3 separate regions of the Homo sapiens genome follow, and all the other regions are linked to region 1. Evidence: fine-mapped expression QTL. A gene starts in region 1. Each other region holds a variant in brackets. All regions are shown on one strand. Distances are between the middles of the regions. Region 1 holds the start of SMOC2 (SPARC related modular calcium binding 2). Region 2 holds the start of HGC6.3 (a long non-coding RNA gene). Region 3 overlaps SMOC2 (SPARC related modular calcium binding 2).

Evidence for each region. PIP is the estimated chance that this variant, and not a neighbour inherited with it, causes the effect.
Region 2: its variant is fine-mapped to the expression of SMOC2 in skeletal muscle (GTEx, PIP above 0.99).
Region 3: its variant is fine-mapped to the expression of SMOC2 in esophagus muscle (GTEx, PIP above 0.99).

The regions. Positions count from the first base shown.
Region 1 is chr6:168,434,814-168,445,672 of GRCh38, reverse strand. SMOC2 (SPARC related modular calcium binding 2) reads right to left here and starts at 4,489. Exons shown (of 13, transcript NM_001166412.2): 1 at 4,219-4,489. The coding sequence starts at 4,302.
Region 2 is chr6:167,975,764-167,986,622 of GRCh38, reverse strand. It overlaps HGC6.3 (a long non-coding RNA gene), which reads left to right and starts at 6,830. Exons shown (of 3, transcript NR_171011.1): 1 at 6,830-7,078; 2 at 8,253-8,543; 3 at 9,808-10,705. RefSeq lists a silencer at 4,408-4,608 and enhancers at 6,473-7,048, 7,626-8,202, 8,203-8,779, 10,619-10,859. The variant G/T (reference allele first, on the strand shown) is at 4,672.
Region 3 is chr6:168,613,041-168,623,899 of GRCh38, reverse strand. The region is part of intron 9 of SMOC2 (SPARC related modular calcium binding 2); the gene reads right to left. Among named protein-coding and RNA genes, the nearest start is that of SMOC2, 180 kb to the right of the region's middle. RefSeq lists enhancers at 1,033-1,202, 10,776-10,859. The variant T/C (reference allele first, on the strand shown) is at 5,043.

The DNA of each region.
Region 1 (10,859 bases):
GCATGAAATGGACTCAAGGCATTTGCAATGGAAGAAGAAAGGAAAAAAAATCACAGTAATTCCCTTGAAGATCCAAGGCTGAGTGAGAACTATATCAAAACAGGATGAGGTACGCATTCCAAACCACAACTGCTCAGAAATGGAATAGCATTTTTATTTTGGCTGTTTCAGCAAAATCAATATTAAATCATCTCATGAACTTGCTAATGAAACTTTAAAAAAATTACACATGGCTAAATATTGTTTTCTTATCACCTTTCTTCTCTTTCAAAGCAAATAAACACAAATAGGAGTGGGAAATAACTGTTTCAGGTCTGTGGTCATGCATTCCACAAGACCAATAAGAGGCATTTACCAGGTGCCAGACCCTCTGTGAGAAGATGAGGATTCAGGATGAAAGTCAACTACAGTCTGAGAGGTGAAACGGCAGTGTGGAATTGTAAAGTTCCTGAAGACAGTGCAAAAAACAGTGCAGGGAACTCCCACGAAGAAAGAAAAATAATGGCAGGATGACTTGAGAAATATTCGGATCTGCTTAGTGACCAGGTGCCCTTCAGAGTCTCTCAAAACTTCAGTTTCCTCATCTCTTGAATGTGGAGACAACGGTACCTTTAACGAAGTCGTGCGTATGACCTTAGGGGAGCGTTAGGTATTGGCAGTAAGAGAAGTCTGAGAAGGATGGTAATGTGACTTCAACATTCTAAGTGTGAGCAAAATATGATTTAGTCAACATGGGAATGAATACTTTGGCTCTAACCAAAAACTTCTGGGAAAGGGGTCCCAGGCAATATTGTTCTTCTCTCTGCCTTTAAAGAAATCACCTAGGTATGGGCTTATGGATCAGTCCATCAAAATTCATATAATGACAACCATGATAAAGTTGAGTAATTGTGATCACGCCTGTTTGCTCTTTGAAAACAGAATTATGTGTAATAAAAACCATTTATACTAGAGATCATTCCCTCATCTCAGTCATTCACAGAAATAAAAAGGAAAATGGGCACGGTGTGGCATTCAATGTACCTCCTTCTTCAAGGAAGAAATTGACCTGCATCCAAATTAAGAGCGCATTGGACACACTTAAGAATGCCATTGTTGACTGGAGGTGAGAGGGTCTGAGCAATAACCAGGAAGTTGTGCAAAGCCATCAGAAAGTCACAATGAGAGACACAGAGGGCCTCATGGTGCCATTTCTAAAGAATGACTTTGGTGGAAAGAAGAGAGATCATTACCAGACAAAGTGGATTCTCTGAATCTTAAACATAAAGTAGCAGAGGTGAGCACACCAGCAATGCTGGACCCACCAAGAAAGCACACTCACCATAGGTGAGTAAGACAAATGCGTGGTCCTGAGAAGCCAGGTATGGCAAACTGAAAGCCCCAGAGAGGCTGACATATTTCCCTGCTTCTAGATGAGAAGAAATGAATGGAGTAGAAGGAGGCAGAGAGGCAAGCTTTCCTCCTTGGTCTATAGAGTCCCACATGGCTACTCCCACAAAGTCCACAGATACACCCAGAGCCAAGTGGTGTGCTCTGAGAATCTGCGGCAGGTGAAAATACTGCAAAGTTGAATCCACACACACCTTAATGCCACAACGCTATATGCATTGATAATTACGGTATCAATTGATAGCACTCTCTTATACGGACCCACGGCATGGGCACCATCAAAACAATGTTAGCTGGAGAACTCACATATAGTAGGCGCATTAAAAGCCCTACCTTTAATCCTCACCACATGCTTGAAAGAGATTATGTATTCTCATTTTACAGATAAGGGGACTGAAGATTATGAAATTAAGTAACTTGCCTGAAGTCACACATCCAGCAAGACCCTAAGCTGTGGGTCCCACCCACTGCATGGACTGATACTGCCTCTTGATTTATTAAAGTAGGTAGGATGCAAATCGTAGGGAGAGAAGGCCCTTCTTTGAATGAGGGCCTCCGGAGACAAAAGAGATTTCCAAAAACCAGAAGGCAATTTGAAAAGAGATGAGCACACTGAAAAATCCTGCACATCTCACATCTCCCAGCGACCAGTCAGATTTCAGGCCTGCCTCAGTTACTTTGTAACTCAACTACTTCTTGATTTTCTAGACTGGGGGTGGGGTGAGAAGAAGTGTGCCAAAATGTGTTATGGCTTTAATCTTTTCTTCGGGATACTGATTTTATTTGCAAATGTAAATTTCAGGCAAACTGTTCTTGGGGAATGCAGCCAACAGGGCAAAGCCCACGTGGGGTATCAGCTCCTGCACAGAGACCCCACATGCAGCGGGTCTCACCGCAACCCAAGACATCCTTGGGGCAACCTCAAGGGGGCAAAAGGTGAGAGGGTTCAAGTAAATAGTTAGATGAGACAGGGGAGAGAAGACAAGAAAACCTGCCGAGTCTTAAACTGTTCTAATTACTAACTACCTTGATTCTGCTCTTCCAGGGGGGACCAACAGGCCCAACCCCACCCCCCACACACACAGGGCAGCAGGCAGATGGCAGTCTCTACTTTTTGCGCTTTCAGAAAATCTGAAAATCCGTGGCAACTGTAGGTACCTGCTGCTACAGTCCTGGAAGAAAATGCTATGATCTCCTTTGGAGAATTGGCCTTAGTTTCTCTGTCTCCTCTAGTGTGCTTTAAGAGTATGTGGGGGGTCTTTTTGTGAGTGTATACGTGAGTATATTTATGTCTAGATGCATGTACAGATGTGCATATACATGAATGCCTCCAGTGAGTATCCTCTGAGGGCCCCCTCTGGGGAGATAAAGGATCTTCAGGGAAAGCCTGAGTGTGTGAAAACCTCCTTGGAGCCCCAGTTAGCAGTTTCTAATCTACAAGTCATTTGTGAGACACAAGGCAGGGACCCCGGGCTGCTGCAGAAGAATTTGAGGTATGAGCAATGAACTCACAAACCATCCTTCACACTGCTAAAACGCAAAAGAAAGAAGACGAAGAAAAAGAAAAAGAAAAAGAAAAGATGCCCACATGACTGTTTTAAATTTGCTGAAAGGCAGAACCGACCACAGCTTATTTCAACCATCTTTATTTTCAATACAATAAACACCTTTAGGACAAGTCCCCGGCCACTTAAAAAAGACGGCTGTCCACCAGAGGCGTTCTCACTACCTTCGTGTTTTCTCAAACACTTGTTCAAAAACACATTTAAGTGGAATGTTTTCGTTTCTGGCGATTGCATTAATGATGGGTTTGCAAACCCTGCAAGCCCAGGAGGACGGCTGGAGCTGGGGGCTGCAGACACCCGGCCTTGGCCCAGCGGCCGCCGCGGGTTGGCTTGGCCGGCGGGGGCTTGGCTCAGCCCCCTCTACATAGCTCCTCGTTTGACACCGCGTGCGTTGGCCGGGCCAAGGCTGTCGCATAGAAGTTACAGCTCAGAAAGAAAAACACACAGCGGTCAACCGCGGTGACCCTCGCGCTCAGGAGCGCAGCATCCCTGCCACGAGGAAGAACCCAGAGGCCCCGCAGAGCGGGGAGCCGCCGCCTGCCTCCAGTTCTGTCCTGAGAAGGGAAGAAAGCGCTTCTCTAATAACACTCAGGCCCGTGAAGAATCATCTGTAACCTCATCTGCTTCTTCCTCGGCTCACTTACGAGGGTCTCTGGGAGAGTCAGACCCACGAGTGGGGCCCACGACTGGCAGCCCCTTCAGCCGGCGAGAGGCCCGGGATCCGCGCGGCGCACGAGCCCAAAGCGGTCGGGAGAACACGCTCCAGGCCGGGTCCCCGTGGGCGAGGTGGGCGCCCAGTCCCGGCGGGTCTGTCTTGGCCTTGGGACAGTCCGCGGGGCGGCGCCGGCGCTCCCAGACCTGGTTCCCCACAGGCTCAGGCCCAGCAGTGAGTGCGGGACACCCGAGCGCACCCGCAGCTCCCACTTGTCCGGGGTCTGCAGGACCCCAGGATCCTCTCACAGCCGGGTCAGAGCCCCCGAGGCAGGTGGGGTCCCAGCCGGGTGGAACCCGAGGAGCCCGTCGCAGCCGCAGCAGGACCCCGGCGGGCAGGGTCCCCAGAAGCCCATCCCAGCCGGGTCCCAGGCGCGCACGCTGCGTCCTACCTGCTCCAGCCTCGCCGGCAGGCGAAGGCTCCACGGCCCCCGGGGCCACCTGCTCCCCGTGCCCAGGCGCCTGGGCCTGGAGCGGGGCGCGGGGACCCGAACCCGGCCGGCTGCAAGAGGCGGCACCACTTGAGCTCCAGGTCCCGCGGGCCCGGGCTTACCGTGAGCGCCGAGAACTTCTGAGCGGGCACCGGCGGGAGCAGCCCAGCGAGCAGCGGCAGCCAGCAGAGCTGGGGGAGCAGCATGGTGGCGGAGGTGGCGGGAGCGGGAGATCGGCCGCGTCCTGCGCCCTGGCACTGCAGCCGGGAGAGCCCAGTGGGCGAGCGCGGCTGGGCGGGCGCGTGGAGGGGCGGCTCCGCGATGCTCTCCCCACCGCTCCCGGCGGCCCGGCTGGAGCAGCTCCCCTGCAGGCACCCAGAGGTCCTCCGCGTTCTTTGCGTCCGCCCTCGCTCCTGTCAAATACCCCGGAGCTTCCCGGATCCTCCCCTCCCGCCCGCCTCTCTCCCTCCCCCTCTCCTCCCCCAGCCCCACCTCCCAGCGCCCGCTGCCGCGCCCGCTCCGCTCCGGTGCCCGCTGCGGCCCAGAGGCCTCCCTGGCGCGGGTCTGCGGAGCGAGAGGTGGAGCGGGGGCCACCAGGGCTGCGCAGTGGCCTGTCCGGGCTGTCTCTGTGCCTCCTTCCCCGCGCGCACTCTCACACACACACGTGCACACTTACACACACGCACACCCAGGCACACGCACGCACTCATACCCACGCGCGCGCACCCTCGGGGGGCTTCCAAGCACAACCACGGGACGCACCGCGCCCTCCTCACGCCCCAGGGTCCAGGCCCGGTCCGCGCAGGATCAGCCCAGCGGGACTTTTCATCCACAAAGGTTAACGCCAAGCCTTGGCCGGTCCCCAGACTCCGGGGTTCTCCTTGACCTCTGCCCTCTAAGGCCCCCTGGTCCAGCCCAGAACATTGCCTCTCAGAGGTGCTGAAGGATCAGCGGCGCTCCAGCAAAGGCAGCTGGGAACACATGTCCAGGAAAGGCTGCGCCGGGGGCAGCCCGCCTTTGGCATCTTTACACGGGGTTATCCACTGCAGGGATGGGGGAATTTAGGTCCTAAAGATCCGGGGTCTGACCTGGGCTGTAGCCTTGATCCTCTCAAGTCGGGGGAGCATGTGGTTGGGCATCATTCACAGACACATGTGGCTGTTTTTAAACAGCTCTGTCAAAGCATTTCAGGTGTTTGTGCGGGGAGCACAGGGCTTGTGGAGGTTGTAAACTCACCCACGAAGACTACGTTGGAAACCAGGAAATTTTTGCACACCCAGACTCTGGATAATATCCACTGCAGACAACATTGCTGACATAGTTTAGCCTTGGCTTATAACTTTACAGGAAAAAGCCCTAATTCTGTCTCACACAGAAAGCCAGAAGAGTGAAGATTTGTTCAAGAACAATGAATCAATTGACTTGTCAGGGGCATTGGGAAAAGCACAAAACACAGAAAATCCAAATCTGAGGTTTCATCCGATGTCTAGCCCACTGCTTTGGCTATGAACTTTGGGGGAGGGGGCTGTATCAGCAAGTTCTGGGACTGGCTGCTGAGGCAAAGGCAATGCTATTGCAACCTTTCCCACACAATTTTATCAGGAAAGTGATGTCCGTCGGGCCACGGAAAGACGGGAAAGAAATGCACCTTTTCCTGAAGGAGGGCTACTCTCAGAATTCTCCTTAAAATTCCAAAGCCCAGGGAATCTATTAAGCACTTAAACACATTCCTCCTGGTTTAAGGACTTAGAAGGAAATTATAATAAAACTCTTGAGGGACTGCTCCTGGGTCCAGAAAAACAGGTGAGCAGAGCAGCTGCAAATGATTAAGTAAATAGGAATCACTGTTAGGGAACTGCAGTGAAAATTAAAGTAAAAAGAAAATAAACACTACATACCACTAATTCTAAGATTATCCAAAGAATAAAATTTACACTCGAAGCTGACATACTTCCTTTAAGAAGTATTTGCTACTAAAGAACCTGTTTTTCACTTTCCACTTTGTTGAGAGTACTGCTCGTCAGAACTCAAAAGTTTGAAAGCATGTTCATTTATCCACCATCGTCCGCTGCAAGAATGGCAGACAAGAAGCAGACTTAATTATTCCCATTCTACAGATGAGGAACAAAAGTCAAAGGGGCCAAATGTCTTAGCCAGATCTCCTAAGCAACAAAATCATAAACAGAATGCAGATGTTAAAACCTGCAATACTGGCAAATCCATGTCACTTCCTCTGGCAATATGGAGAACAGAAGAAAATCCTTGGCCCTCCGTGCCTTGTATTCAAGAATCCCAACACGTCTTTCATGTAGCAACTCCAGAATCCTCTGGGAACTCTAGGAAGATAAATGAAATGCATTTGTCCAAAACTCTGACAGATGAGGCAGGTTTGGAGCCTTTGAAACCCCTTTCAAATCTGGAGGAGCTCATGTGTCCTGAATGCCAAATTTTAGTTTCTCAAAATTCTAGAAATGGAGTTTGGAGAGATAATCAGGTTCCATTTTTATGGAGAAAAACAATACATTTATTTAAAACACTGGGAAAGAGTTATGTCTGTCTTTTATTTGTAAGTCTCCAAGAAAGTTATTACTGGCAGGAATGCCAGAGAGCTGTCATGTTAGAAAGGATAGAAAAGTAATTCACTCAGTTCAAAGTTAAGACAGGAAGTGATCAGCTCTATACTTTCCAGAGAGTTCCTCTAGGATGCAGGAAGAAGTTCCCCTCTCTTGGAAATGTAGGTTTTTTTGTTTTTTTTTTTAATTAAAAAGTGATGCAGGGCCCATTCTAAAATGTGGCTTATGCATTCAGAATTTAAATGCCTGTCACTGATGAAAGTTACAATAAAGAACAGCAAGAGAAACTAATTACCAAAGACTCCAGCTGTTTTCACATTTCTAAACTAACTTTCCCTCTTAGGCCATTAGCAAAATGCTTTATCATGAGTATTGGCTTCCTTTTTATTTATTTTACTATGCTAAAACTGCAAAAGGATTTTATTTTCATTATAGAAATGATATAATTTAGTTATTATTTCTGGCTAATTCATGTTTAGCCAGAAAACTTTTTGTCAGCTATTTTCCCATCTCAATATGCCAAGCATAAGTTTAGTCAAATATCTCTTTGTTGATGCAGTGACTTCCAGAAATCCCCTCTGCCATCACTCTGAGTATCATCTGGGACTGAACTCAGGTCACTGTTCATACTCTGAGAATCACCCCACATCATCAGTCACCTGCCAGTCACTTATTAATGTTTTCTCCTAGTTTCTACTTAATCATGGGAGCAGGAGTTTTCACCGTTCACCTGGACTTTCTTAGGTAAGTTCTGTGTGATTTTCCTTTTAGACTACCCCCAGGCTGGACCCGAGAATCTGTAGTTCCCCAGGTTTCTGGAGTCTCTGTCCTCTTGTTGGCTTGTTCATTCTGATGACTTGCATCTTCCTTTTAACTTGTTCCCTTCAACCTACGGAAAAATGATGCAGGATCCCCACATCAATCCCAGGTTTTTAGCCCAAGTTCTGCAGCTTCACAAACCTGTGAGCCATATAGAAAGGAAACCACATCGGCAGAGTTGACAAAATCAGAACAGAGCACCGCCGAGGCTCACCGTCACCGCGGCTGCAGGATGAGGCCAGCGTTGACACACCACGTTGAAAAGTGGACAGTGGAGTTGTGTGTTTGATCCTTGGGCCTGACTCAATGGCTTTCTTCCTATTTTGATATATTTAAGTAACAGAGAATTTGGACTTTGTGCTCAACAAAATAATTAAACAAGTTTCTTCTTTTTTTTTTTTTTTTTTGAGATGGAGTCTTGCTCTGTTGCCCAGGCTGGAGTGCAGTGGTGCAATCTCGGCTCACTGCAAGCTCTCCCTCCCGGGTTCACACCATTCTCCTGCCTCAGCCTCCCGAGTAGCTGGGACTACAGGCGCCCACCACCACGCCCAGCTAATTTTTTGTATTTTTAGTAGAGACGGGGTTTCACTGTGTTAGCCAGGATGGTCTCCATCTCCTGACCTCGTGATCCGCCCACCTCGGCCTCCCAAAGTGCTGAGATTACAGGCGTGAGCCACCGCGCCCGGCCTCTTCTTCCTTCTTAAGATGCCTGAGGACAATTTTTATGATAATACTTTTCAGGCACTTTGTGGCAAATTTTTAAAAAATAATTTCAGCTTTTATTTTAGACTCGGGGGCACACGTGCAGGTTTGTGACATGGACATATTGTGTGACTCTGAGGTTTGGGGTATGAAAGACGCAGAGAGTGAGCATAGCACCCAATAAGCAGTTTTATCAGCCCTTGTTCCCTGCCCCACCTTTCTAGCAGGCCCTGGTGTCTACTGTTCCTTCTTTATCTCTGTGTGTACCCAGTGTCTCATTTCTTCTTTATCTCAATGTGTACCCAGTGTCTAGCTCCCGCTTATGAGTGAGAACATCCAGTATTTGCATGTCTGTTCCTGCATTAATTCACTTAGGATCATGGCCTCCAGTTGCATCTATGTTGCTGCAAAGGACATGCTTCCGTTCTTTTGTGGCTACATAGTATTCCGTGGTGTCTATGTACTACATTTTCCTTGTCCAGTCCACTACTGATGGGCACCTAGGTTAATTCCATGTCTTTGCAATTGTGACCGGTGATGCAATTAACATACAAGGGCTTGTGTCTTTTTTGTAGATGGTTTATTTTCCTTTGGATACATACCCAGTAATGGGATTGCTGGATCGAATGGGAGTTCTATTTTTAGTTCTTTGAGAAATCCCCAAACTTCTTCCCACAGTGGCTGAAATAATTTACATTCCCACCTACAGTGTATAAACATTCCATTTTCTCTGCTGCCTCAGCAGGATCTGTTGCTTTTTGACTTTTTAATAATAGCCATTCTGACTGGTGGGAGATGGTATCTCATTGTGGTTTTGATTTGCATTTCTCTGATGATCAATGATGCTGAGCATTTTTTAATATGTTTGTTGGCTTCTCGCATGTCTTCTTTTGAGAAGTGTCTGTTCATGTCCTTTGCCCACTTTTTACTGGGGTTGTTCTTTTGCTTATTGCGTTGTTTCAGTGCCTTCAGACTCTGGATATTAGACCTTTGTCCCATGCATAGTTTGCAAATATTTTCTCCCATTCTATGGGTTGTCTGTCCACTCTGCTGATCGTTTCTTTTGCGTGCAGAAGCTCTTTAGTTTAATTAGGTCCCACTTGCCAATTTTTTTGTTGCAATTGCTTTTGAGGACTTAGTAACACATTCTATGCCAAGACTGATATCCAGAATGGTGTTTCCTACATTTTCTCCTAGGATTTTTATAGTTTGAGGTCTTTCATTTAATATTTAATCCATCTTGAGATAATTTTTGTATATGGTGAAAGGTAGGGGTCGAGTGTTAATCCTCTACACATGGCTAGCCAGCTATTCCATCACCACTTACTGAACAGGGAATCCTTTCTCCACTGCTTATTTTTGTTGACTTTGTTGAAGATCAGATGGTTGAAGGTATGTGGCTGTATTTTTGGGCCCTCTGTTTTGTACCTTGGTCTGTGTATCTGTTTTTGTGACAGTACCATACTCTTTGGGTTACTGTAGCCTTATAGTATAGTTGGAAGTCAGGTAATATGATGTCTCCACTTTATGGAAATTTTTAATAGATGGTTGGAATGTGATGGGTGTTTTATACACATTATCTAACTTTCATGGAAACTCTACAAAATGGTTATTTTACAGATGAGTAATAAGATCCTGGGAGATTACAGAACTTGCCCAGATTTACACAGCTAGGAAGCGGTAGGAGCAGAATTCAACGCAGTTTTCAGTTTGGTGTCCAGGATCTGTACCCTCCAATATTCTCCATCTCAGAAACTACTGAAGAATCGTGAACTAGAGTGAGAAAAAGTTTGGGGTCCAGAATCTCCTGCCTGATGTCAAGATAATCAGTTCTTAAACTTTTTGAAACCATATACCTTTTTGAGGTATGATGAAAACCATGGGCCATTTCACTAAGAAATGTGTGTGTGCACATGTACAGAAACACACACTCATTCACTAACTCAGCCTTCTGCATAGTGTTTAAGATCCACCACCAGACCAAAGGAGAAAGCCCTTCACAACTGGTTCTGACTTACTGGTAATGCTTCAATCCCAAGATAATGTTTCCAAAGAAAGCTCTTTTTCACAAAGCCAAACACAAGACTGCTACATTTACAGTGAAAACTGTCCCCGTAAAGTTGACGGGAGATGCTTGTGCTATTCTGAAAGGATGTAGTTCTGGTGTTGGAGATATGGTCTATCTAAACAACCAGTCTTACCTCAGGTCGAAACACGTTGCCACTGCTGTTATACATAGCCCAAGTTTACTGAAGTCTATTTGTAATAATATCCAGGGGCCATGTTAGCCTTTCCACTCAGGAAACAACTTTCATTAGCATATGGAACTTGCAGAATCTATCAGTGGCAGAGCTAATAAAGGCTGACCACTGCCAAGGCTCATTAAGGCACAGGATGTGTTCGTGGAAAGAGAAGGAGATCTGGTAAAATTTACAGGAGGCATCTTATTCTAAACTCAGACAATCTAAACTGTTTGAATTTTTGCTCCTTGTTAAGTCAATCTAGGGGTCCTTCCCCTCCTTTCTTCATGTGAGACCACCTTTAAAGAAAAAACAGTTTTAAAATAGCAACAGAAAGCTTGCCAGGAATACTCTGGGGTAGTATGGACCACACAGGTACAATTTATACCGGCAGAAAGCAACGTAAGAAGATACTCTAATAAAGAAAGC
Region 2 (10,859 bases), 460 kb after region 1:
GGCTTTTCTGTGTCGTGATGCACAATTCCTCACTGTTGTGTTACAGCCACCCGCAGTGTGCGGCACAGTCCCGCGCTGCCCAGGTCTGTGGCCTGGCTGCAATGGCCGCACCCGATAGCAGCAGGCGGGACCTTCCCAGTTCGTGGAAACGCACCCCGCGATGTTCCCACAATGACAAAGTCGTCCAAGGACACATTTCTCAGAACACAACCCCGCCATTAAGCGATGCCTGACTGTATGGGAACTGACCGATGCTGGGCTCGGATGACGCCGCCGCCGCAGGACAGGGAGGAAAGGCCATCTCCACCCCCGACAGGCCCTGCTTCCCTCCCACCGTCCACGCTCACATCCACCACCTCTCCAGCCTCCAGTGTGGCCCCTGACCAGCAGTGGCAGCCGAACCTGGGGGCTTGGACCCTCCCACTCCTTGTCAGAAGGGGACTCAGAGAGGCCGGCTGGGAGGGCTAAGGGCTACCACAGAAACACTGGGGCACAGAAGCAGCCGGTGTGAAGTCCCCGAGGTGGGAACGAGCGTGGCGTGTTGAGGACGGGGCAGAGGCCTGCGAGGTCGGCGAGTGGGTGAGGGAGGCTGGGGTGGGAAGGAGGCCGGGAAACAGCCAGGGTGTGTGCAAGCCAGGTGCAAGCCCGGGTTTGATCCCACGTAGACGGGAGGGCACTGGAGGGTCTGACGTAGGGCAGTGACATATCACCCTATCAACAGTGAACACGGAGAGAGCCAGCGACCAGAGAATTTCCTGCAAAGACAACCACCAGTTTCTTAGGAAGGGGGTTCAGGTGCAGCCCCTCCTACTGGGGGTTCAGTCCTCTGCCGGGGACTCCTCCTCCCCCATGCCTGCTGACACGCCCACAACCAGCTGTGATGAGTTTAGGACAATCTTACTTGTAACTCCAAACTCTTTGGGACTGGTGACGTGACCTGAGGCCTTGGGAGTCATCTACACCAGAGGTCCCCAACCTTTTTCCCATCAGGGGCTGGTTTCGTGGAAGACAGTTTGTCCACAGGCTGGGGGTAGGGTGGTTTTGGGATGAAACTCTTCCACCTCAGGTCATCAGGCATTAGATTCTCATAGGGAGCACGCAACCTAGATGGCCGCATGTGCGGTTCACAAGAGGGTCCACGCTCCTCTGAGACTCTAATGTCGCTGCTGATCTGGTAGGAGGCGGAGCTCAGGAGGGAAAGCTCACTGGCCCCTGCTCACCTCCTGCTGTGCACCCTGTTCCTAACAGGACATGGACCAGTACCAGTCCATGGCATGGAGGCTGGGGACCCCTGATCTACGCTACCCATTGCTATATGCAGTCCATTTAAGCTCTTAAAAAGAAATCTCTGGAATATTTCCTCTCCAATCCACTTAATTCCAAAAGGGCACCCTCTCTTCATGGACAACTGCAGGAGCGGACACCACCACTCTCTGCCAGCTTCTTCTTTCTGGAATTAATTGAAAACATTTCCATATCCTGACTGAGGTACAAATCACACGCCAGACAATTTACTCATCTCAAGTGCACAGTTCAGCAAGCTTTAGTGTCCTTCAAGTGCGACTCACCAGAAAGGTTCAGAATATGTTCATCTTCCTCAGAAGAAACCCTTAGACATTACTCCTAACTACTTCCTACCCCAGTGCCAGGAAACCACTGATCTATTTTCTGTCTCTATTTGCCGATTCTGGACATTTAATGTAAATAGAATCACACAACACGTGGTCCTTCGTGTCTGGCTTCCACTCTGCATGTTTTCAGGGCTCAGCCATGTGTAGCAATATCAGAATTTCATTCCTTTTTATTGCCAAATAGTATTTCATTGTATGGATGTACAACATTTTGTTTATTCATTCATCAGCTGGCGGACGTTGAGGTTTTCTCTTTGGTTATTAAGAGTCATGCTGCCAGGACGTTCACGTACAAGCTTTGTGGAGAAGTGTTTTCAGTTCTCTCGGGTGCATATACCTAGCATTTTGAGGAACTGCTAGACTGTCTTCCAAAGCAGCTGTGAGGCAGGAGGATAGGGAATTCGGGTAACCAAGGGTGAAGGCATAAGCAGAAGAACAGCAGGTGCAGCTACTTCCAGGCAGGACTGGGCAGCACACAGGCCACAGCCTCCCTCCAGTGATAACAAGACAGACAAGTTGCACGTCAGCCTCGGACTGACCACGGGCCACATCTCTGCTTCAGCCTCTGATTGGTCACAGGCCTCTAAAGGGCACCCAGGGGTGTTACCAAATTCTTTTCGCTTAAGAAAAGCCCTAAAGAACATTGCAACTGGGGATCTTGAGCCGCTTGCTTGAGCCCGCTCCCACTCTGTGGGGTGCACTTTCGCTTCAGTAAATCTGCACTTTCTATACATCTGTGCTTTTGTTGCTGTTTTCTTTTGTTGCTTTTTTCTTTTGTTGCTTCTTTCTTTTGTTGCTTTGTTTGTACATTTTGTTCAATTCTTTGTTCAATTTTGTTCAGTTCTTTGTTCAACGCACCAAGAACCTGGACAACTCACAGTCAAGATGTCCCATCCGGTAACAGCAGCATTAGTTTTACTTTCCCACACAATTGCATGAGGATCCTGATTGCTCCACCTACTCTCAAACACCTGTTATTTTCTCTCTTTTTTATTATAGTCCTCTTTGTGACAAGCAGTGGTGTCACACTGCAGTTTTATTTGTCTTTCCCTGGTGGCTAATAATGGTGAACATCATTTTCAGTGTAAAAGTCTTGTTAAGTCTTATACCTTGTACTTCTTTGGTTAAAGGTATCCTGAAATGTTTTGATATTTTTGATGCTATTGTAAGTGAAATTGTTTTCTCTTTCTTTCTTTTTCTTTTTTTTTTTTTTTTGGACAGAGTCTCACTCTGTTGCCTGGGTTGGAGTGCAATGGCCTAATCTTGGCTCACTGCAACCTCCACCTCCCAGGTTCAAGTGATTCTCCTGCCTCAGCCTCCCAAGTAGCTGGGATTACAGGCACCCGCCACCACGCCCAGCTAATTTTTTGTATTTTTATTAGAGATGGGGTTTTGCCATGTTGGCCAGGCTGGTCTCGAACTCCTGACCTCAGGTGATCCACCCGCCTTGGCCTCCCAAAGTGCTGGGATTACAGGCATGAGCCACGGTGCCCAGCCTTTTTTTTTTTTTTTTTTTTAATAGAAACAGGGTCTTGATATGCTGGCCAGAGTGGTCTTGAACTCTTGGCCTCAAGCAACCCTCCTGTCTCAGCCTCCCAGAATGCTAGGATTACAGGCATGAGCCACCATGCCTGGCTGGAATTGTTTTCTTAATTTCATTTTCAGTTGTTCATTTCTACAGTATAGAAATACATTTGCTTTTTGTATATTGATCTTATATTCTTCAACCTTGCCGAATTTGTTTAGTGAGTTTAACTCTATTCTGAATACGCTCCAGGATAAACATGCTAGGTCACAGAACAAGCCTGAATACATTTAAAGGATATAAATCATATATGATTCAGGCTTGTTCTATGACTTAGCATGTTTATCCTGGAGCGTGTTCAATGCGCACTTGAGAAGAATTTTCAATTCTGTTGTTAGGTAGCGTGTTCTACAGGTGTCTGTTAGGTCTGTTCAGTTTATCGCATTCTTTGAGTCTTCTGCTTACTTGCTGATTTTCTATCTAGTTGGTCTACCCATAATTGCAGGTAGAGTATTGAAGTCTGCCATCCTTGTTTTTGAATTGCCTATTTCTCTTCCATTCTGTTGGTTTTTGTCTCACTAGTTCAGGAGCCCTGTTGTTAGGTGTATTCTTCCCTCCTTTTATATTATTATAGTTATACACATTATATGTATATATGTTATAAATATAATACATTGTTATAATTATGACTTTACATAATTTCATGTTCATTAAAGGAGGTGAGAAAAGGAAGGAGGATACATATTTATTTATATGCAAGTTCTATTTCTCTTTTTATTCACCATGTTTGTTTCTCTTCATTTGGTCCTGTGGATTCGAGTCACTGGCGTCCTTTCCTGACTCCAGTAAAACTTTGCCTTCATCACATCCTTTGTGTTATTTTTGTCAAATACATTACATTTCTACATGTTACAGGGCCAACAGTACAATTATACACACTCTGTCTTATACAACTGTTCTTTAAATCAGTTAAGAGAAGGAAAATGAAGAAATATACATGTCTACTGTCTTTTATAATTATATAATTACCTTTACTGATGCTCTTTGTGGATTTGAGTTTCCTTGTGGTTTCACTTGCTTTCAGCCTGAGGGATTTCCTTTTCACAAGAAATTCTCTCTGATTTTTTTTTGAAGAATGCTTTTATTTTGCTTTAATTTTTGAAAGACAGTTTTGCCAGATATAAGACTCTTGATTGACAGCTTTTTTTTCTTTCAGCACTTTGAACATCTCACTCCACTGCCGTATGAGTCCATTTTCATGCTGCTAATATAGACAAACCCAAGACTGGGCAAATTACCAAAGAAAGAGGTTTACTGGACTTACAGTTCCACGTGGCTGGGGAGGCCTTCCAACCATGGCAGAAGGGGAAAGTCACACCTCACATGGTGACAGAGAGAGACAGAAGGAGCTTGTGCAGGGAAACTCCTCCTTTTAAAACCGTCAGATCTCGTGAGACTCATTCACTATCACGAGAACAGCATGGGAAAGATATCTGCTCCCATGATTCAATTACC[G/T]CCCACCAGGTCCCTCCCGCAACAGTGGGAATCCAAGATGAGATTTGGGTGGGGAAACAGCCAAACCGTATCAACTGCCCTCTGACTTCCATCATTGCTGAGGAGAAGACAGCCATCAGTCCTTTTGGGTTCTCTTGTACACGGCAACTCGTTCCCACTTTCTGCTTTCAAGATTTTCATGTTGGCTTCAAACATTTGTACTATGACATGTGTGAGTGTGAATCTCTTTGTATTTATCCTACTTTTGGGATTCATTGAACTTCTTTGAGAGATTCACATTTTTAAGCAAATTTGGGAAGTTTTCAGCAATTATTTCTCTGAATGTTTTTCTGCCCCTTTATCTCTCTTCTCTCCTTTTGCTTTCATTATGCATATGCTGGGGGGCTTAAAGGGTTCACATATTTCTCTGAGGTTCTATTCCTTTTTTTCAATCTATTTTTATCTCCGTTTTTAAGATAACATAATTTCTACCAACCTATCTTAAAGTTTGCTGACTTTTCAGTTCAAATCTACTCATGAGCCCTGCCAGATGTTTTTTGGCATTTCAGTTATTTTCAGCTCCAGGATTATCATTAAAAAATAATTTCAATCTCTGTATTTTTTTTTATTTGATGAGACATTGTCATGGTTTCCCTCACTTCTATGAGCACAGTGTTGTTTAGTTTTTTGAACATGGCTGTAATGTCTGCTTTGAAGTCTCTGTCTACTCAACATCTAGGCCCTCCTGCTAGTCAGAGTCAAATTAAAAAAAAAATCTAGGCCCTCACAAGGCAGCTTTTGTTTCCTGTGTTTTCCTCATGTCTCATTTTCCTGTTTCTTTGAATGTCTTTGCATGTCTACATTTTTGTTGAAAATCGGATGTTTTAGGTAACAGTATACAAACTACATGCTGATTCCTCTCTTCCCTCTCTGTAGCTTGGTTTTGTTGTTTTGCTTATTTGTTGAGTCACTTGGCTAGACTATTTCAGTGAAGCTTATTTCCCCTGCAGTGTGAAGCCTCTGGGGTAGTTCCTTGGAGGACTCAGCCTTGGGCATGCACGCAGCCAGCCTGGGTTGTGGTGGTTTTGGTGGGGACACTGGCTATCTCTTTCCTTGATCCCTCTGTTAAGCTATCTACCTCATGCGGTATCATATCTACCTGTTAAGCTCCATTAATTACTAACTGATTGCTCTATGATTTTCAGTAATGACCTGGGCATACATTTCTTCAATGTCTGGTCCAATTAAACTGCAGCAGTGAACATTTTTTAAGGCCAGTCTCTGAGGTTTGTTTTAGCTCCAGGAGGGCTTTTTTTTTTTTTTTTTTTTTTGAGACTGAGTCTTGCTCTGTCACCAGGCTGGAGTGCAATGGCGCGATCTCAGCTCACTGCAACCTCTGCCTCCCGGGTTCGAATGGTTCTCCTGCCTCGGCCTCCCGAGTAGCTGGGACTACAGGTGTGTGCCACCACGCCCAACTAATTTTTATATTTTTAGTAGAGACGGGGTTTCACCATATTGGCCAGGATGGTCTCGATCTCTTGACCTCATGATCCACCCACCTCGGCCTCCCAAAGTGCTGGGATTACAGACGTGAGCCACCGCGCCCAGCCGAGGGCTCTTCTTAGTGTCACCTTGGTTCTCTCTAGCAACCTAGCAGGGCTATGAATTAGTTTGTTGATGATGTGCTGAATTGTGTCTCTACCCTCGAATTCGTATGTTGAAGTCCTAACCCCCAGCGTATTAGAACATGATTCTATTTGAAGATAGGCCCTTTAAAGAGGTGATTAAGTTAAAATGAGTCCATGGGGGTGGGCCGTATTCCAATGTGACTGGTGTCCTTACAAGAGGAGGAAATCTGGACACAGAGACACAAGGAATGAAAAAAGACCACGTGAGGACACAGTGAGAAGGGGGCCATTCACAGGCCAAGGAGAGAGGCCTCTGAGGCAACCAAACCTGCCAACGCCTTGAGCTCAGACGCTTCCGCCTCAGAACTGTGAGGGAGAAATTTCTGTTGTTTAAGCCCCCAGTCTGTGGTGCTTTGTTCTGGCAGCCCTCACAGACCAATTCATTGCTCCTAATTAAGAGGAACAATCATTTCAGAGCATGCCTTCAGGCTTGAATGTTTCCACGCTGTTTCCAATAAAGCCAGTTCCTTTGGGAAGAGCTTCAGAGCAACCTTTTCTTCCCTGTGGACTGCCCTGCTCTCTGGTCTTTTCAGTTTGCCTCTTTTTACGGAACTGCGTCCTACAGTGGAGCTGGGCACAGCAACTGGATCCCAGCCTTCTTAGCCCGCTGTTCTTGGGCTAGAGCCCCATCCGATGAGTAGGGACTGGCTGGAGGAAGGGGGCTGTCCGTCATGCTCACCAGGAATTTAGCCTCTTCAACTGGGTGCTGGGGTGAGAAATGCTGGCATCTGTCCCTCCTGGTGAGATAAGGGGACCCTCGGGTGGGAGCTGAGGGGAGAGCGAGCCCTGTCTCCTTGGCCACAACCACCAAGAGTGGGGCTTCTGTCAAGATGAGCTGGGGTGGGGGAAGGAGGGAGCCACAGATGATCATTATTCTTAGGGAGTTTCAGCAGACTTTCTTGAATAAATATTTGTCATCTGATTTTTGCTGTGAGGACTATGCTCTGATTTTTTTTTAACTCTTACTCAAATTCCTATCTAAGGGGTCTGGGGAGTCATGCCCTACAAATCATAAATTCTTATCAGATGGGTTTTATTTAACCCTATATATTGTGACTTGCTTTCCAAACCTGACTCGTGCATAACATTACGAGACAAGGAAGAAAGTCAAAATATTTTACCCCAAAAGCATGTTTCTTTGCCATATTTTGAAACGGTCCTGCAGAGCTGTCCGTTGTTGGGAGACGTGTACATCTGTAAAGAATCTCTGTTAACATGGCTAGATCTTTCTTCCAGGCCCTCCCAATCCTGAAGAAATGAACTAGAGTCTAGCACCTTTTAAAGATCTAAATAGGAAACATTTGTCACCTATTGTCTCCAAGGGCAGCCACTATGAGGCTTCAAAAGAACCTTGGTCTCCACAGTCTTTTATCTTAACCTGAACATTTCCTTTCTACTGATCCCAGGTCTTCGGAGAAACTCAACCAATTGTCAACCAGAAAGTGTTTACATTTACCTAGAGCCTGGAAGCCCTCCCCCTGCCCTTTGAGTTGTCCCGCTTTTCTGGGCAGAACCAATGTATTTCTTAAACGTATTTGATTGATGTCTCCTGCCTCTCTAAATTGTATAAAACCAAGTTGTGCCCCGGCCACCTTGGCACACGTTCTCAGGACCTTCTGAGGGCCGTGTTACAGGCTGTGGTCACTCATATTTGGCTCCGAATAAATCTCTTCAAATATTTTACAGAGTTTGACTCTTCGTTGACAGCTGTTCGCACAATTTCCATTAAAACCTGGGTGGTTTTCCCCATTTTGCGCGTTTTGCTCAGGTTTCCGGGGCTCCGGTCCCTGCCACCCCGGGTGTCCCCGGGCGGTGTTCTCCCTCCATGGCCATTACTGCGCTTGAACCACCGCCCTCCACAGTGTGACATTTTCAGAATAGGAATGTAATCTCAGCTTCCCACCCTTCTCACAGGCCCTCCGACGGTGGCTCCGTGCCCTCAAAAGAAGGATGATCCCTTCCTGGTCCCGCCTGACCCGGGGGAGCTCGGCCCCTGCTGTGCTGTCAGCCTCGCCCCGGCCGCCCGCGCTGACCCCCGCCCGGCTCACAGCACCGCTGGCCGCAGCCTCTCACCGAGAGCTCCTGCCCTCAGCCTCCAGCCGGAGAAGGACTCCCCATCCCAGCAGAGCTCAGCTCAGCGGGCACGCGCACGACGCAGAAATCCTTGATTTCTCAGGTTAGGCGACGGCTGAATTATAAACACGGGTAAGACCACGCACCTCCACTTCCCAGCGTTCTGTATTTTACAACCATTCTGTGTTTATTTCATTGATCTACTTCCCGGATTCAACGGTATACTCCAAGAGGGCAGTGACTAGAAGAACTTTATCTGTCCCGGCTTCGCTACTGTGCTCCCAGCACGTGCACAGCACACAGCAGACAGTTTTAAAAGCCGCGGAGGCCCCGGGTGGGAGGGGAGAGGAGGCCCCGGATGGGAGGGGAGAAGAGGTCCCGGGTGGGAGGGGAGAGGAGGCCCCGGATGGGAGGGGAGAAGAGGTTCCGGATGGGAGGGGAGAGGAGGCCCCGGATGGGAGGGGAGAAGAGGTCCCGGGTGGGAGGGGACAGCAGGCCCCGGATGGGAGGGGAGAAGAGGTCCCGGGTGGGAGGGGAGAGGAGGCCCCGGATGGGAGGGGAGAAGAGGTCCCGGGTGGGAGGGGAGAGGAGGCCCCGGATGGGAGGGGAGAAGAGGTCCCGGGTGGGAGGGGAGAGGAGGCCCCGGATGGGAGGGGAGAAGAGGTCCCGGGTGGGAGGGGAGAGGAGGCCCCGGATGGGAGGGGAGAAGAGGTCCCGGGTGGGAGGGGAGAGGAGGCCCCGGATGGGAGGGGAGAAGAGGTCCCGGGTGGGAGGGGACAGCAGGCCCCGGATGGGGGGGAGAAGAGGTCCCGGGTGGGAGGGGAGAGGAGGCCCCGGGTGGGAGGGGAGAAGAGGTCCCGGGTGGGAGGGGAGAGAAGGCTCCGGTGTGGGAGGGGGGAGGGGGAAGGGGGTAGGAGGTCCCTGGTGGGAGGGGAGAGGAGATCACCAGGGAAGTCCAGGGGTGGGAGGACAGAGCAGGTCCACCACCCCTAGGTCCTGGAAGCCTAGACGAGAGGGGACAGGTCACGTGGGACGTTTGCGTCCAAAGCTGGCTACCATCCAGTGAAAGCCTCCAGCCCACCCGATTCTCCCAGGCCTCCGCGTGGAGCCTCTGAGGGGGGTCCCTCCTCCCTCCCCCCACTCAGCCGCACTGGGCTCTGCAGCTGCCGGGTCCGTCGCTCCCAGAAGCCCCCCCACCGCCCGCTCCCCGCCGGCATCGCCTCTGCTTCTGGCCTCCTCTCACTGCCCCCAGTGACCAGCACAGGAGCGGGCGTTGGGGAGCACGAGGGGGTGGCTCGAGGCGGGAGCGAGGGGCAGGAAGAAATAGCAGGAAGACCCAGGGGCAGGAGGCCGGTGTTCAAGCGTCGAGGAACGTTTCATCCCTTCTGAATCCCAGGCCTCGCTGGACCACGGACCCGCCAGGTTCTCCCGCAACTTGCGGAGCTCCTGGACCGGCCCTTCCCAGAGGCGCAGCGCTGAGTCCCAGGAGCAGGACCTGAACCAGGAAGGGGAGGGGCGAGCACAGTCCTGCCTCCTCCTCCCCGCACAGTGCTGGGGGAATGACCCCCACTGCCTTCTTCTCCTCCCCCAACACTGCAGGGGGAATGACCCCCACTGCCTCCTCCTCCCAACACACTGCAGGGGGAATGACCCCCACTGTCTTCTCCTCCCAACACACTGCAGGGGGAATGACCCCCACTGTCTTCTCCTCCCAACACACTGCAGGGGGAATGACCCCCACTGCCTCCTCCTCCCAACACACTGCAGGGGGAATGACCCCCACTGTCTTCTCCTCCCCCCACACTGCAGGGGGAATGACCCCCACTGTCTTCTCCTCCCCCCACACTGCAGGGGGAATGACCCCCACTGTCTTCTCCTCCCCACACACTGCAGGGGGAATGACCCCCACTGCCTCCTCCTCCCAACACACTGCAGGGGTAATGACCCCCACTGCCTCCTCCTTCCCCACACACTGCAGGGGGAATGACCCCCACTGCCTTCTCCTCCCCCAACACTGCAGGGGGAATGACCCCCACTGCCTCCTGCTCCCCACACACACACTGCAGGGGGAGTGACCCCCATATTTTAATGCAGTGGTTTCTCTGGTCACTCACGGTCCAGCACTAGCACGCAGCAGTCGGGGAAATGCTGTGGGTATGAGACGGCCTGGATTTTGAAGGCGCTGCATGAAAAAGAATGTAGAGAATCTGAATGCATTTTATGTATAGATTGCATGTTGAAATGATGCTGTTGGGATATATTAGGCAAAATAAAATATATCACAATTTATTACACCTCTTTCTACTTTTTTCATGTGACTCCTAGAAAATGGATGGTCTCTGAAGGGGCTGGTGTCAGGTCTCGAGGGGACTGAGCTGCTCTGAGCCTGTCCCGTGTCACAGAATGTGGCCAAAGGTTCCAGGAGAGTCGGTGGCAGTGCTGGACGGA
Region 3 (10,859 bases), 180 kb before region 1:
CACAGCCACTGCACCGACAGCCCAGGCCTCAGCACGCATCAGCCACTCTGGCTGCCCCAGTCTTGTGCATCTCTGAATCACTGTCCCGGAGGCTGTCGAAGTGATTTTTTTGGGGGGATAGGGGGTCTCTATGTTGTCCAGACTAGATGGGAACTCCCAGACTCAAGCAATCCTTCCGCCCAGCATCTCACCTTCCTGAGTCGCTGGGATTACAGGCATGAGCCACTGCACCCAGATTCATTAAAAATAAAAAAAATAATTATTGGCCAGGTGTGGTGGCTCACGCCTGTAATCCCAGCACTTTGGGAGGCCAAGGTGGGTGGATCACTTGAGGTCAGGAGTTCAAGACCAGCCTAGCCAACATGGTGAAACCCTGTTTCTACTAATAAATAAATAAATAAATAAATAAATAAATAAGCCAGGTGGGGTGGTGTGTAGTCCTAGTTACTCGGAGGCTGAGGCGGGAGAATTGCTTGAACCCGGGAAGGTTGCAGTGAGCAAAGATCATGTCACTGAACTCCAGCCTGGGTCACAGAGCAAGACTCTGTCTCAAAAAAAAAAAAAAAAAAATTAATTATCCATGTCTCAGCCAAAACCCTTGCAGGACATGGTCCAAATGCCTTAGTGGGCCTGACTGGAATCCCCGCAGCCCTCCAGCCTGCTCTGTCCTTTTAGAGTATTGCATGTTGACCTTGGTTTGCTGACTCAATCTCTACTATCTTCTTGGGCTTCCTATATTTAGAGCATTTCTATAGAGATACCCTGGACAATAGAGCACGAACAGAATTAAACAGATCATCTCACTTACTTAAATTTATGTAGCAGCAGAGCTAACTCACTGTCCAGATGGACAAGCTACGGAAGTCAGAAACTCCCCTACCCAGAGGGGCTTCCAGAAAAGACACCACTGCATGCCCTTCCCAGTGTGCACTAAGGCTGACTGCTCGGAAGTTCAATCCCACACTCAGCCCGAGTACATCCGGCTTTCTACAGATTGTCCTCTCCTTGGAGAAATGTGGGCATGGTGTCGGTCTCCGAGAGTGGCCTTGCACGTCCTGTACCTTGTCCCTTCTATGGATGCCAGGCACCAGGCACAAAAGGCATCTACTTTTGCAGTAAAGCATTTTGTACCTCAGCTTCCCCCCTGTGAAGGAGGCTCTCTGTGGAAGTGTGGATTAGAGAAATGGCATCTCAGGGTGGAAAGGGCTTGGAAATAGCAGTGGGAAGACAAGACAGGCAGCCCTGCTCTTGTCACTTTCTTGACACGGCAACAGTCTCACCTCTGCTGAGTTAGTTAAGTGGTCAGGAAGAAACCGAGCACACATGGACTCTAGGTCTGCCTGTCAGGAAATGGTACGTGCAAGAAAAGCCAGGGCTCTAAACAATAAAGAGTAATGTCAACACACAACATGCCATGGCGAGAACAAAGGGGAGACTTGCCAGGCACCAGGAGAGGCACAGGACTATCCTTGTCTTTTTTTTTTTAATGTAAAGGAGTTTAATTGAACAATGAACAATTCATGAATCCGGCAGCCTCCCAAGCCAGAACAGGCTCTGATACTCCTGTGCAGCCACATGGTGGAAGAAGATTCATTTTGTTCCATTCTTTGCTTCAAAAAGATTTATCCACTAGAGGCTGGCCGCAGTGGCTCACACCTGTAATCCCAGCACTTTGGGAGGCCGAGGCGGGTGGATCAGGAGGTCAGGAGATCGAGACCATCCTGGCTAACACGGTGAAACCCCGTCTCTACTAAAAATACAAAAAAATTAGCCAGGCGTGGTGGCAGGCGCCTGTAGTCCCAGCTACTCAGGAGGCTGAGGCAGAAGAATGGCGTGAACCCGGGAGGCGGAGCTTGCAGTGAGCCGAGATCATGCCACTGCTCTCCAGCCTGGGCCACAGAGCGAGACTCCATCTCAAGAAAAAAAAAAAGAAGATTAATCCATTAGAGAAATTCCAAAGACAACAATGCTATTCTGCTGCCTTTGAATAAACAATTTTACCCCTGTGTAACGCAATGAGTGGTGATATGGTTTGGCTCTGTGTCCCCGCCCAGATCTCACCTTGAATTGTAATCCCATAATCTACACATGTCAAAGGTAGGACCAGGTGGAGGTGACTGGACCATGGGGGTGGTTTTCCCCATGCTGTTCTCCAGATAGCGAGTGAGTCCGCGTGAGATCGTGAGATCTGATGGTTTTATAAACATCTGGCACTTCCCCTTCTCTCTCCTGCTGCCATGTGAAGAAGGACATGTTTGCTTTCCCTTCTGCCATGATTGTAAGTTTCCTGAGGCCTCCCCAGCCATGTGGAACTGTGAATCAGTTAAGCCTCTTAACTTTATAAATTACCCCATCTTGGGTATTTCTTCATAGCAGCATGAAAACAAACTAGTACAAGCGGGTTACTACTTAACAGAGCAAAATTGTAAATAAAACATGGACTTCAAATACATTTTTAAAGAGCATATCAAAGACTGCTCCAAAAAGTAGCACTTCATGGCAGATAATGTGTGTTCCTTAGGAGACGTTTTTAAAATCAGAAATCTGACACTGGGACTAATACTATTCTCCTCTGGAAATAAGGGGATTATACATTTCAAGTAAGTTGATTACATCAGGAAAAGCGTAGAGAAAAGATGCATAAATAGGACAGAAACTCAAAACACTAAAGTGTGTCTGCTGAAATTTACACTTGAACAATTTATCTCAGGAATTTCTCAAAGCGAATTAACAACTAATGGGCAGTCCATTTATCCTTCTCTGTCAGAGGGAAACCTCTGACGTTTCTGAAAGATTGTCCTTAATTTGACAAGTTAGAAGAGAACTAAGAAAAAAAGTAAATCATGCTGTCTGAGAAAACATCCTAGGGGTTTCCATAGCCTGTGGTTATTCATCACAAGCCAGGTTTTGAGAAGTTTTCGACCTTGGTTGGTCATCCAGGGTGTCCAAGGAGTTTGACACGCGGCTGATGCATCTGGGCACTGCAGCCTTAGTCTGTCCAATTAAATTCTTAAGGAATTATCAGGAAGAACATAACTCAATTGCTCCTATCAGCTGGGCCATTTCTATTAGTCTTGCCTTTATTCTAGAAGTAATAACCGCAGTGCTCTGGCCAATATCCAACCTGGATAATTGGATTTTCCCTGTCTTGATCCCCCTTGGAATTAATTTCTCCTGCAGAAGTGATTTCTCACGTTCACTCCTCTCTCCGCACAGTGTCAGTGCTGCCCATGCTGTCTGCGGTTCCCTGACTCAAAGGGTGCTATCTAGGGTGAGGGTGAAATGTTCTTGACATTGGTACAAGTCTGGAAAAGAGTTTACAAGAATTCTACCATAATATTTTTAGACATAGGGAAAATTTTCCTATATATCAGTCTCCATTTTCCCAATATTTCAAACTGAAATAAGGTGGCTTTCTTGTTCAAGAGCATTCATCCCAGGGTCATAAACCTGCAATCCTCACAGCCAGGTCTCAGCTCCAGAGTACGGGAGCTGGATCTCTATTGACTTGCATCTCCCAGAACATTGGCAAGCACCACCTATGCAACAGGCATGTAATAAATACTTGCTTGCAAAATTAGAAAACAAAGGGATTTGTAATTCTCATGAGAAGGTAAAGCAGAGAAGGCACCATGCAGTCTTAGTATTCTGCCAGCGTTGGGTTTAAAGACATAGGGGAATCAGGAAGATAAGCGCTTCCAAGTGAAAACAATAAACATGATTCAGTGAAGAGATGAAATACCGATAGCTAAAGAACGCTCAAGGCATCTGAATTGCTTGGTTTGGTGGAGGGGAGAGACCACAGGCAAATATTACACGCAGGTAGGGCTGTGTGTTTCATGCCTGAGCAACCTGGTGCAGGGGATCTGAAGACCTGAAGGCAGTGACTGCCAACCTCAGGGAGCACAGAGCCCGTGTGTCCGGAACCTTGAGAGCGAGCTGGACAACGGCCTGCCGGAGCACAGTGACCATGACTGGTACGTAGAGTAAAAGGGCCACAAGACACAGAGCGTGTAAACTGAAGCTGTGGGCTTTCTAACCATGGCAGGCACTGGCTACACAAGGGACAGCTGGCTGTGGAGACCTTCCGACTCCAGGCAGAGTCCCCTCTGTCCGGACTGGCCTCACTGTGGTCTCACCTGAAGTGCACAGCCTCTGAGAAAGAAGGGCGCTTTCAGGAGTACCACGGTGGTTTCCTGCCTGAGTCAGCGGCAAACGGGAAGTAAGTGAGACTTGCGTTATAGGAGGTTTTAATTTGATTATGGTAGAGCCTCAATCAATTCAGAAAAGATAGGAGGGAAGTCTAAACTAACCACTGTAGGCCAGTTAAAAGCATACTTGTTATTTTTAAGTGTATACCGTACTTGGAAGGCTTTTAAAGTAGTTAATCATTTAGGATAAACTGCTTTAATAGAGTTAGGAATTATTTGCAATAGAATAACAATTGTTTAGAAATTAATTTAATATATTTGATAGTGTTGGAGACCAGTTTGTTCTCAAGTTATTTAAATTGTCTCTGAAATATTGCTTACACTATTAATTTGTCTGGCAGATGCCTTTTTCATGATGAACGTAAATCTAAACTTTATTCCATCTCTCTTCTGCATAATCATAACTTTCAAAGTAACGCAGGCTAAACTGGCCAGAGCTGACTGTCCTGTTGTCGTTCAGAATGCTCCCTGCTGTCTTTGGGAATTTTTTAAATGGCACTTTATCTTTAAAAATCTGGCTCTAAAGGAAACCATAAACAAAAACAAGCCACATTGCTTCTAAAATAACTCAACAATGTGCTGTTGCGGTCACCGGCGCTGCTCAGAACTCAAGTTCTCCGATCCGTGCTGAGGGTCATTTTGTGTCAGGTCATAGGTCATCTAACACTTGGTTCTCTGATATTCTAGCAAATTCCTGGGTATTTTAAGATTAAGATATTTATTGTCTTATTATATTGAATAAACAAATAAAATGCAGCCCATAATTTCAGAAATTGGTTCCCAGTTTAGTGGAGTCTGTGGAGTAGTGACTGAAGGGCACTCCAGCTTTCC[T/C]GCCATCGCTGTCTCTCCCAGACCGGATGCCCGTGTGCCTGCTGCGTCGAGAGCCCATAGTCCCTGCAGGAGACGATGTCACCTTCCCCATCGCCTAAGCTGGGCTACTGATGTCCTGAGCGCACCGTCTTCCTGTCTGCATCTGTGCTCACCCCATGCGGGACATTCCTAGCCCTTCCATCGTCATTCCCTGGCCTTGTCTTAACTCTTTTACCACCTCTCCTTGACTCGCCTCTTAATGCCACTACCTGCCTCTCCTCAACTCTCCTCTTAATGCCACTACCCACCTCTCGACCCTCGTTTTAATGCCACTACCCACCTCTCCTCGACTCTCCTTTTAATGCCACTACCCGCCTCTCCTCCACTCTCCTAATGCCACTACCCGCCTCTCCTCCACTCTCCTAATGCCACTACCCGCCTCTCCTCCACTCTCCTAATGCCACTACCCGCCTTTCCTCCACTCTCCTCTTAATGCCACTACCTGCCTCTCCTCCACTCTCCTCTTAATGCCACTACCTGCCTCTCCTTGACTCGCCTCTTAATGCCACTACGCTGGCTCTTTGCCATTGGATGCCCAGTGAATTGCAAGCTGTGTGTTGTTACTAATCATGATCGGCTTGTTTGTAGGGCTCAGTGCAAAATGGAGCACGGAGGCCTCGCGTTTAAAAATTAATTATTTCATCGTGGTGATAGCACAGCAATAAACCGAGGGTCCTGTTGGAGCACTGGGCCCTGGGGCGATGGTCCAGGCCACTCCCATGCAGGCAGCCTTGCGGCTAATAACACGCCATAGGACAGATCCGTTTTCTTGGATGGGAAATAAATGGGTGGGTTAAAAATCTCAGATTATTTTATCCCTGGCAGACCCCATAAACCTGGCAATCCATGTCAGCATGCCTCTCAGGGAAATGACCTGTGTCCTGTGTGCTGGAGGCATGGCCCCTCAGCGAGGCGCTGGACGCGACCCCCGCCTCTCCAAGTAGGCCATGCAATCAGGCGAGATACAGTCCCATGCATGGCGGAGAGAAGAAAACAGAAAATGCACTGGGGTAAGGCCAGGAGGGGCCCCATCGGTCACAACAAGCAGTTCACATTTAATCTGGAGCCAGGAGACCCTGATGATGGGAAGCAATACAGGCCAGATCTGGGGTTTCCAGACACCTCTTCTTGCTGCATGGATGGGGATCAGAATCTACTTACAGTCTATTTGGAAACTCGCCTGGAGGAAGCAGTGGGGCAGCCAGCGAGATGCAAGAGAGCTTGGAGCAGAGACAGGACTTGTCCAAGCGGATGTGAGTGCGGGACAAGAGTGGAGTGCCCCTGGCCCATCAGAGTCCTAAACTTTTGCTTGAAAGGTCATGGGAGAAACTATAGCTCCAGCTTCCTGCCCCGTCTTCAGAGTCCACGAATGCAGTGCCCTGGGCCCCTGGGAGACCCGTCCTTGGGTGTGAGAAAAGCTCCTGCTCAGCCACGTCGGTGAGAAACAGCCACCCTGCTCAGTTATTCACACTCAGCTGTTGAAGTATCAATTAATAAACAGAAAAAGCGCCCAGCACCCTCCTGTACATAATTAGACATTTGTTAGTCTTTCCTCTACATGTTGAGGAAAATAAAACGCCTTTGTTTATTTAATTTCTCTATTCCTGTTCTTGTTTTTTTGAGAATGATGAATTCCCACATTCCCCCAAACCTCCAATGTCTCCTTACTCTCAAACATGAAGACAAAATATCAGCCAAAAGAAATATTGTAATAAAATCCCACTGAGAATTCTGCTGGCCTTGCTGCAAGAGTAGCCATATCGCTCCTTCTTAGTTCTCATCTCTCCGGTGCCCTCTGCAGGGTGCATCCTGTCCACTTTCTTTCCCAGGAGAAAAGGCAAGCGCTGAGTGAAACGCTCACTTCACCTGTGTCCCTGCACCTGCGTGGGCTCCCTCAGCTGCTGGAGGAGCTCCCTGCAACCCCCCCGCAGTGCAGCGGCATCTCGGGATGCTCCACAGACACCGGTTCTTGAAAACCACCTTTTCCCAACCGCTTGACTCCTCGGCACCCCTTGTCCCTGCTCTTCCTGTCTTATGATGCCTCTGGGATGGCAATTATATGTGTGGTTTTTCTGAGTTTTTATTTGCAGCAGTCTTTTCTCAATAAAACTGATTTAATGGTCCATTTCACTGTTACGCTTCCTAAAAACTGCAATTTCCTTCAAAAGTGTTACTAATCTTATTCATGGGCAAATTTCATATTTAGACATCCAACTTAGTGGTCAAAAAATAAAATAATGTAGATTCAGCTCTCTCTTCCAAGTGGTGCCATGTGGAACGGTCTCTTGCCATATCTGGGACTCCCCAGCCCTACCCATGAGGCTGAGTTGATGTTCTTTAGGTATCATGCCACCAGACAGCTCTCAAAAGCAGAATGCCAGGTTAAAAATCCTCTCTCACAGACAGCCTCGCATCCCAGCCTCCTCAACACCCAGTCCTTGTCCCAGCCTCATGGGTCATGGAGAGTCTGAGCCTGTGCCCTGAGCAGCTGGTTCTGGCGTGAGCCTGTATGGACACAGAGTGCAGATAGCTCACCTAACTACTCACATCCCCAGAATTACAGTAGTATGTTTCTAAAGCCTGAAGCTTTGTTCCCAGCTCAGCTAAAATTTAGAAGACTCGTGTCTGTAAATTCAGTCTTTGATATGACAGCAGGGATCACAGAAGTAGACATTTTTAGTGGGCAGAATATTGACACCTCGTGTCACCTTTGTGAGGCTCTCAAAGGCCACCAAGCGAGGTCCTGGCCGGCTCCTGTCTGCTTTGTAGAAAAGGTAAACACCGAGGTCCTTACATGTCACATGATACCTGGCAGGAATGTGTTGCTCCTGATCTAACTACCTTTTGGAAAATGTCCTAAGCTCCACTTAGGGCAAGGTAAGGTTCATTTTATGCTCTCTCAGAAAACCATAACTAATCTTCAAAAAATTAGAATAGTGCTAAAATCGTGTCTGAAAAATCCAGGTGTTGCCTCTAAGGTTTCTACATGAGTCAAAGACGATAATTATGCCAGCAATTGCTTGGGGCCCCAAGAAAAAAGATGCTCCTGGCTGTAGATGTGAAGAGACCCTGTGCTGGCTGTAGGTATGAAGAGGCCCCCTGTGCTGGCTGTAGGTGTGAAGAGGCCCTGTGCTGGCTGTAGGTGTGAAGAGGCCCCCTGTGCTGGCTGTAGGTATGAAGAGGCCCTGTGCTGGCTGTAGGTGTGAAGAGGCCCCCTGTGCTGGCTGTAGGTATGAAGAGGCCCTGTGCTGGCTGTAGATGTAAAGAGGCCCTGTGCCGGCTGTAAGTATGAAGATGAAGAGACCCTGTGCTGGCTGTAGGTGTGAAGAGGCCGTGTGCTGGCTGTAGGTGTGAAGAGGCCCTGTGCTGGCTGTAGGTGTGAAGAGGCCCCCTGTGCTGGCTGTAGGTGTGAAGAGGCCCTGTGCTGGCTGTAGGTGTGAAGAGGCCCCCTGTGCTGGCTGTAGGTGTGAAGAGGCCCTGTGCTGGCTGTAGGTGTGAAGAGGCCCCGTGCTGGCTGTAGGTGTGAAGAGGCCCCATGCTGGCTGTAGGTGTGAAAAGGCCCCGTGCTGGCTGTAGGTGTGAAGAGGCCCCGTGCTGGCTGTAGGTATAAAGAGGCCCTGTGCTGGCTGTAGGTGTGAAGAGGCCCTGTGCTGGCTGTAGGTGTGAAGAGGCCCCCTGTGCTGGCTGTAGATGTAAAGAGGCCCCCTGTGCTGGCTGTAGGTGTGAAGAGGCCCTGTGCCGGCTGTAAGTATGAAGAGGCCCTGTGCTGGCTGTAGATGTGAAGAGGCCCTGTGCTGGCTGTAGGTATGAAGAGGCCCTGTGCTGGCTGTAGGTGTGAAGAGGCCCTGTGCTGGCTGTAGGTGTGAAGAGGTACTGTGCTGGCTGTAGGTGTGAAGAGGCCCCCTGTGCTGGCTGTAGGTGTGAAGAGGTCCCCTGTGCTGGCTGTAGGTGTGAAGAGGCCCTGTGCTGGCTGTAGGTGTGAAGAGGCCCTGTGCTGGCTGTAGGTATGAAGAGGCCCTGTGCTGGCTGTAGGTGTGAAGAGGCCCTGTGCTGGCTGTAGGTGTGAAGAGGCCCTGTGCTGGCTGTAGGTGTGAAGAGGCTCCATGTGCTGGCTGTAGGTGTGAAGAGGCCCTGTGCTGGCTGTAGGTGTGAAGAGGCCCTGTGCTGGCTGTAGGTGTGAAGAGGCCCTGTGCTGGCTGTAGGTGTGAAGAGGCCCCCTGTGCTGGCTGTAGGTGTGAAGAGGCCCCCTGTGCTGGCTGTAGGTATGAAGAGGCCCTGTGCTGGCTGTAGGTGTGAAGAGGCCCTGTGCTGGCTGTAGGTGTGAAGAGGCCCTGTGCTGGCTGTAGGTGTGAAGAGGCTCCATGTGCTGGCTGTAGGTGTGAAGAGGCCCTGTGCTGGCTGTAGGTATAAAGAGGCCCTGTGCTGGCTGTAGGTATGAAGAGGCCCTGTGCTGGCTGTAGGTATGAAGAGGTCCTGTGCTGGCTGTAGGTATGAAGAGGCCCTGTGCTGGCTGTAGGTGTGAAGAGGCCCTGTGCTGGCTGTAGGTATAAAGAGGCCCTGTGCTGGCTGTAGGTGTGAAGAGGCTCCATGTGCTGGCTGTAGGTGTGAAGAGGCTCTGTGCTGGCTGTAGGTGTGAAGAGGCCCCCTGTGCTGGCTGTAGGTGTGAAGAGGCCCCCTGTGCTGGCTGTAGGTGTGAAGAGGCTCCATGTGCTGGCTGTAGGTATGAAGAGGCCCTGTGCTGGCTGTAGGTGTGAAGAGGCCCCCTGCTGGCTGTAGGTGTGAAGAGGCCCCCTGTGCTGGCTGTAGGTGTGAAGAGGCCCTGTGCTGGCTGTAGGTGTGAAGAGGCCCCCTGTGCTGGCTGTAGGTGTGAAGAGGCCCTGTGCTGGCTGTAGGTGTGAAGAGGCCCCCTGTGCTGGCTGTAGGTGTGAAGAGGTCCTGTGCTGGCTGTAGGTGTGAAGAGGCCCCCTGTGCTGGCTGTAGGTGTGAAGAGGTCCTGTGCTGGCTCTAGGAGAAGAGGCCCTGTGCTGGCTGTAGGTGTGAAGAGGCCCTGTGCTGGCTGTAGGTGTGAAGAGGCCCCCTGTGCTGGCTGTAGGTGTGAAGAGGCCCTGTGCTGGCTGTAGGTGTGAAGAGGCCCTGTGCTGGCTGTAGGTGTGAAGAGGCTCCATGTGCTGGCTGTAGGTGTGAAGAGGCCCCCTGTGCTGGCTGTAGATGTGAAGAGGCACTGTGCCATGCCCTTTAGGGAGAGGCCTTGACCATTCATGAAGTCTGCTGGGTCCATAGAGCTTCCAGAAACACTTGGGTGAGAGGCTGTTTGACCAAAATAAAGACCATTTCTTAGACTGTGTGCCAGGCGGAAGAGCTCTGGGGATCCAGGAGAGGACCCTGGCTTGGGGTACAGGGCAGTAACAGAGGGGCCATGCCCAGGCTCCCCAAGGGGCTCCTCATGCCGCCCCCTCTGTCCTCACACTGGTGCCACTGCTGAACCACCAACATCAGGACACCCACAGAAAGACAGTGCTGTTTTCACCTGAGCTGGTGGAGGAAGGAATGGCTCACAGGATACGTCAGACTTCCCCTGCACCTTCCTGACCCCCAGGGCCCAGCTCCTGTGCTGCCTTTGGGGTGGCCTGGACCACAGTGCCTGAGAGTGAGATCAGACTGCACGCAGCGCAGATCGTCACAATGACGAAAATGTGAGCGTTCCCTGCCAGTGTAGACTGAAATGAAGCAACGCCCAGAGGAAAGCCAGTCTGCTCATTCGAATACGATTGGTCCTGA